2 separate regions of the Homo sapiens genome follow, and region 1 is reported to be linked to region 2. Evidence: microRNA targets listed by miRTarBase, many of them from high-throughput screens and not tested one by one. Region 2 holds a microRNA gene; the other region holds the end of a gene's coding sequence.
What was found. Region 2 holds the annotated microRNA hsa-miR-1909-3p (CGCAGGGGCCGGGUGCUCACCG, at 1,779-1,800, opposite strand). A microRNA usually pairs through its seed, bases 2 to 8, with sites in the 3' UTR of a target mRNA and lowers its output. Matches are read on the target gene's strand: a 7mer-m8 pairs with bases 2 to 8, a 7mer-A1 pairs with bases 2 to 7 and ends in A, and an 8mer does both.

Region 1 (3,401 bases), not on the chromosome of region 2:
AAGACAAGAAACTTCAAATGTCAAGGTGCTGAGCTAGCAGTTGAGAGCTCTAGCTGCAATTAGCCAACCTTTGAGCCAAACCATAGGACTGGACATATAGTGGATACCATATACCATAGCTACTTCTAGCATACAAGCTACAAGGATTCCTGAGAAGCTGAGGTTAATGAATGAGATTGATCAGGAGTGAGGTATCAAAGGGATATTGTCATTCTCTGGAGGGCCAATCGGTGCTTAGCATCTACAAAGTATACCTTGGCACAGTGTTATCTGATTTCTCTAATTTATTCTCTGAAGTAGCACCTTAACACTGGCTCATCTGTCTAAAATCAAGAACAAAGCCTAGAAGAAACACAAAAGCAAACTTGAGACACCCTCCTTATCGCTACTGCACTATGAAATATGACCAAACCTTTCATTGTCATTAAATACCAGAAATAGTAACATTTTCTGTTTTGCAAACTTTAGTGGGGAAGGACAACTAATAAGACAGGTATTGGACCAGAAATGTACAGATAAGAACTTTGATTTCTACACAATATACAGGGTAGTCAAGCCAAATAGTCTCATATGAAGGAATCAGTGACATGGAAAGGACAAAATATGTGGTTACTGAGCCATTACTATGATACAACATACCCCAGAAAGATTTTTTTCTTTTTCATTAAAATGCTAGAGTGATCTATTCACAAGGAGAAACTCTAGCGACTGCCTTGATTATTTTAAAGATAAAAATAAAATAACCCTTGGCTACCCAGTTCTGAGCAAAAAAAAGAATTTCAGATTTTGGAAAGACAAGAACTATGGGTAAAAACGTCCTAGAATCAGGGATCAGCAACTCTTAAAATGAGGTACACTGAAGTGTTTGGGGGTAGAGGGTTGGTGGGAATATGCAGAATGACCGCTGATTCTGGGCTGGAAGGATGATGAGAAGTGCTAGGAACAGAGCTATAAAATCATCCAGGCTGAACTCTTACCCCGGCAGTGAAATCTCACTGCCGTAGGCATCCAGTGTGGAAATGGAGGCATGGCAGCAGCAACTGGGCCACATGGCAAAGGAAATGGCTGTGTGTCACCTCTGGTCCATGTGTTGTGAGACTGCTGAGCCTTGGTTTACAATTTAACTAGCCCTGGGAGTTATTTTTTTTTGTAGTAGGAATGATTAACCAGGAGCAGCGCTCAATCCCAAACAGAGGATTTGGTACTAAGGAGTAAGAAGTGGAACAGAATGGAGGGGGAGTAATTGCACACAGGTAAAACTACAGAAAATGAAATAGTGGTTGGAATGATGATGGTGGCTCTGTAATTCCACCAAGTGTCCCCAGAGTGTGATTTTTTTTTAACTGCAATAAAGGTGGTATGAAATTGAGACAGGCACCTTTTCAATTGGATACAAGCACCTTTGGTGTCACCAGGCCTTGTCCATACCCCTGTGTCTTAGGATGGCTCTGCATTTTATTTAGAATTCTAAGGACTCTTGAGGGAGTCACAGCTGCCTATCCTGTTCCAACACCTTGAATATATTTGGAAGCATCCCAAGCCTAATTCATGATCATGGGGACAACACACTGGCCTGTTACACATACTTATCGCTGGGAGGTACAATGAGTGTCCAGTTATTTTAGTACTGGTGGTCTTTACAAAGGAATGCATGAGGATGCATATGCAGTTCTGAGTCTTCCCTGGTTTACCAGTATGCAGTCTAGACTTGGTTCCCTTTGCTGTTTTTACATATTCCAGAAGCCTAAAGCACCATCATTCATGGAGGTGGCATCTGGGTAAGAGAATTAGTTAGGACCTCACAAACATGTGAAACTCCTAGTCATTGACTTTGCTTAGAAGTTTACTAATTATTCATTTCAAGGAAGCTGGAAGAAATCATTCCTTGCTACTAACAAATTCACGGCAAAGTCCTTGTCTACCAGCTAACAAATGCCACCTGGAAAATTACCGTTTTTGCAGACAAGGAGAAAGCTCTATAACTTATCTTTGTGCACTTCAAAAGAGTACCAGCAACAAGCAAGCTATAAAAGTCAATCTCTCTAAATTCATTTAGAAGAGATTAACCAAAGCAGCATTGTCTTATAATCAGAAATTAAAATTAACATAAACATACACACATAACAAACTAATAATGCTAAATATTGTAACAGGAACAAGGATAACATTTGAACTGAATCTTCACAGTCTAGAAAATACCATTACTCTTTTCCTTCTGGCTTTCCTTTCTCTGGTTTGAAAAGCAAAGCCCCTTAGTTTACACTTCGTCTTCCAGTAACAACAGTTAGATCCCAAAAGAGTGACTTTTTCGTCGGTTTCCTACAGGTTATAGGTCAGGACGGTTGGAATTTCTCTTGCATAGTTTTCAGTGATTGCATATTGGCTAACTACTTTTTAAGTTAAAAAAATCTTTTAAAAAGCAAATATAATTAAACCATAGCAATCTTATTTATTCTTTCATGATATCTTCCTAATGTAACATCATGGAAGCCTAACTATAATTTCTCCTAAAGAGAAAATTAATTTCCAGAGATTATGTAGTGCAACTGGTTAACTTGTAGGAAAGAGACAACACACTAATGTGACTTCACCATCCAAATATGGAAAATGTGTTTTGGGTACCCAGTTAATACAACATATCCATGGTCTGTAATGTCCTTCCCGCTTTACATCCAGAACTCTATGATTCTAGTTGAAGAGAATGGAATCAGGATCTTGGTTCGCCATCTGTGCTATATGCTTTAACACATCCTTTTTGGTAATGATTCCAAGCAATCGCCTAAAAGACAAACACAATACAAAAAAACAAAAATAAATCTGTAGTTAAAATAGCATTCCCAAAGGTGATACTTGTCCTCCTCAGTCCTTTTCAACTTTGTCTTTGATCACTAGCTGCCCTTTCAGTATGAGATCACAGGAGTAGGACATGTGCCCCAGGCAAATAGGATGATGTGTGGATTCCTAAATGTATGCAAGTGTTTCTACCTCTAGGTCTCAGACCCTGCGATTTCCTCTGGTTTAAATACTCTTCGCTACATATCTGAATCTTATCTACTGCAGCCCAGTTCAAACGCCCCTATTCCAGAGCACCTTCCCTGATTCTATGAGCCAGCAGGAACTCTGCCCTCCTCACAGCAACAGCATGCACATTCTTTGCAGGCCTCCTCAGTGGCACTTGTCCTCTTTGCTATTGTACTATAACCACTGCTAGGTTCTTGCCTTCCTTAAAACACTGTCTGCTCCTTGAGGGCACAGAAGGGTCTTATTAATTTTTGTGTCTCCCTGGAATCCAGTGGAGTACCTTCTTACATGGAGCAGGGATTCAGCAGATGTTGAATGAACCAGTTAGGGAACTCCCCTTACTGATTTAAATCCTGCAAGGCATCTGTTACACCATTTAG
Region 2 (3,401 bases):
AGAAAACAACTCCTTTACAGAAGAGGTGGGAGAGTCACTAGTCACAAGAACAGCCCTCGAGGGTGGAAGGGCCTGGCCTAACCACGGTCCCCCAGGAGGGCCCTGGAGAGATGCAGAGCCCAGAACCGGGAAGGGAGCCTTGGGATGGAGTCCTCTGGGGAGGGCCCCCACGTCCTCATCCCGGGACCTGTGCCCTTGGCCTTGCCCTTCAGCAGAAGCCCAAGACCAGGGTGGCAGGAAACCCACTCCAGGCAACCTGCCCCCAGCTGCTGGGTCCTGTCCCGCAAGGCTCATCACTTTTTCTACTTGAGGTCAATAAAAAGTGGGGCCTAAACACCCCTGGGCCTCCCATTTCCAAATGGGGTCCCGATGCAACCACAGTTGCCCGAGACGTGCGTGCACTACACAATGTGTGGCGTTTCCTGGCAAGGGCCGGAGCAGCTTTCCGTGTCTGCACTCCATCCTTTGACGGGCAACACACAGCAGCTCCCAGTCTCTTTAACCCCCTCTCACCATCTGTGTGCAGTCCCTATCTCTGGGCAGGGCAGAGAGGGAAGCCAGCTCTGTGCACAGGGCCCAGCTCCACACAGGGCTGGGGACACCACCCACTGTCCGAGAGGCACTAGAAGCTGCAGGATGGTGGCCCATGATCTGGGGCTGGAACTGGGACCCCACAGCAGGTGTGGCCCAGCCCTGGGGGAGCCAGCCCTGGGCCAGCTTTTGTGAGGGAAAGTTTCACTGCTCTGTTTTCTCTGCGTTGATGGGAAGAGAATCAGTCCCGGCTGCAGGGACAGTGGCCTCCCCGGGGCACATGCAGAGGCCTCACCAGGCACCAAGACCAAGACCACCACAAAATCTAAAATCCATACAAACATTTATTCTGTCCCTGCCTGGAGGTGAGGGGGAAGGGGGTCCGGAGAGCCCCGCAGAGGAGGACGGGGCTCTAGCGGGAAGACAGTGTCCGGAGGCCGGTGGGCTCCCTCTAGACGGCAGACCCTGGGGCTAACGAGGGGCCAGCTGGGTTCTCAGAGGTCACGGAGTGCAGGGGTGGGGCGGCGAGTGGTGGAAGCCGGCGCCCCCGAAGACCGGCCAGCCCCTGGAGCACAGAGGCGGGTCCAGCCCACACTGCGCTGAGTGTGGCCCTGGCCCCCACTGGGGTCTGTCCCACCCCCACCCCGCAGGAGGGAAGGCAGCAGGCCCGCTCTTCCCGGTGGGAAAGATGCTGTGCAAGTCATCAGGTTTAAATTAAAAATAATAAAAATAACAATACAAAATAAAAAAAGACTGTCTCAAACAAACCTGGGACAAGCCCGCCCCGCGACCCACGTGAGGAGCAGAGGTGCCGGCCACCACCCGGGAGGGAGGGCCTGGCAGGAGGGGCAGGAGGGGCTGCGGGCCGGGTGGGGGCGGGCTCTGTCCTGGTCTCCATCAGCAGCAGTTTCTAGAGACGCCAGAGGGCTGGGGGGCAGAGGGTGGGGACCGGCGGAGGGGTGCGGCAGGACGTGAGCGGGGGTGGGCTGGGCTGGGCGTTCTCTGGCCGCCAGCTCATCCCGCTGCTCTGGGCTGCCTCGGCCAGGTGGACGGGTTACCGGAGATTTATTGCACTGTTTTGGAAGAGGCATGGGGCTAAGGACCAGCGGGACGGCAGGAGAGGCGGGTGGGAGGCGGGCAGGCGTCATCGCTTGGTCTTGGCGTCTTCTCGAACCTTCCAGATCACCAGGTGCATGCAGGCGCCGGCGTCCTCGCTGGAGCTGTGCCCATCCACTGCGGGGCAGATGCGGTGAGCACCCGGCCCCTGCGCAGGGACGGCCCCAGGGCAGGCACCGGCACTCACCATTGTCCTGGATGATCTGTCTGAGGTAGTCGGCCATGAGGTTCCGCAGGGACCGCTTGTAGGGGAGGCCCAGGCGGTGGGGGAAGAGCACAGACGTGTCCACCACGGTGCTGTGGATGACCTGTGGGCAGCGGCAGAGATCAGCGCACGTGGGGCCTGCGCAGGTCCTGCTGGAGAACCGCGCGGGACCCGGGCCGGCAGGGCACCTTCAGGGCCAGGAGGTCGCTCTCCAGGCTGTGTCCGATGAGGATGGTGTCAGCGCTGAACATGCTCAGCAGAACGGCCTGGACGTCACGCAGCGTGACACTTGTGTCGGCAAGGTCAGCCTCCGTCACCCCCGAAAACCTGGGGGAACGGGCAGGAGGGGCACCAGGGCTCAGCCTGGAAGCACTGGCTGGTGGGGCGGGGGAGGGTGGGTCCCTGGGGAGAGGCGGCTGGGAGGGCTCCCAGCTCGTGGAGGGCACTGGCCACACCTGGTGTTGTAGTCCACGATCTCGTTGTCAGGCTTCACGAAGGTGTCATAAACCACGTGCACGTCCGTGTCGACCACCGTGACGCGCGTCAGCTCCAGGCCATATGTGGTGTAGGACTGCGGGCAAGGGATGCACCTCAGATGTGTCCCAGGCACCGGCCTCCCTCCCTCCCCTTCCCTGCCCCTTTGAGTCTCCAGAGCCCCTCCAGGCAGAGGCAGTGACCAGAGACTCTGTGGGACTTCTAGGAGAGGCCGAGTGGGGTGTGACCTCAGTAACCCCCTTTCGCAAAGCCCTCCTGCCTCCCATTCAGAGGCAGAGCCGGGGCCCAGTGCCCGGTGTGCTTGGCTCTGCTGGGAAGTATGGGGTGTTGGTCCAGGGCAGGAGCCACAGGCACCGGTGCTGCGAGAGAAACCCTGAGCGCTGGCCGGTGAGCCAGGCCCAGATGGGGCCAGATGGGGCGGCCGCACCAGGCCAGGTCCTCCCCAATCCTGAACCCGACGCTGGGCAGAGAACAGCCTCACCATCTCGCAGTCCAGGGCGTAGATCCCCGGGTGGGTGTCTCCTGAGAGCTCTTTCTCAAAGGTCTTCACGAAGCCCTCAAGGCGCTCCTTCCGGCCATCCTGCACGTGTTGCTGGGGGTGGAGAAGGCAGGTGAGGGCAGCTTCGGGGTGCAGTGGGGGCGGGGGTGGCAGCAGCAGCACATCTCTGAGCCCTTCGGGACCATCCTATCCATCCATCACGCCCATTCACTGGTTGGGACCCTGGTGAGCAGGTGGGGAAGGGGGCTTGCCAAGAAGACACAGGGAGGACGGCTTCCCAGGATGGGAAGTGGCCAGGGACAGGGCCTGGGGCCTACGGGTGCTACGTTCTCTGGGTAACACAAGAAAGGCTGCCCGGGGGCCCAGACCCTGAGCCCAGGACTGTGCTGTGTCCCGAGACCCCACACCAACGATGGGGAGGCAGAAGTCTGTTGAGAACAGGCAGAGGGGACTGGGACGCCAGGGCTCACCTTTGCGACTTGGCAGCCGACAGAGCCGGCGGCAGCCGAGCAGCACATGTACTGGGTCTCCCAGCCTCCGGCCACTGCAGGGGAC

Region 1: miRTarBase lists CLCN5 as a target of hsa-miR-1909-3p. The part of its 3' UTR that is shown has no 7-base or 8-base seed match.

Annotation. Positions count from the first base shown.
Region 1 is chrX:50,091,507-50,094,907 of GRCh38, reverse strand. CLCN5 (chloride voltage-gated channel 5) reads right to left here. Exons shown (of 15, transcript NM_001127898.4): 15 at 1-2,779. The coding sequence ends at 2,689. Among named protein-coding and RNA genes, the nearest start is that of MIR502, 79 kb to the right of the region's middle.
Region 2 is chr19:1,814,391-1,817,791 of GRCh38, forward strand. It overlaps MIR1909 (microRNA 1909), which reads right to left and starts at 1,848; the gene lies at 1,769-1,848. It overlaps REXO1 (RNA exonuclease 1 homolog), which reads right to left. Exons shown (of 16, transcript NM_020695.4): 11 at 3,317-3,390; 12 at 2,829-2,939; 13 at 2,308-2,423; 14 at 2,041-2,179; 15 at 1,835-1,955; 16 at 858-1,764. The coding sequence ends at 1,676.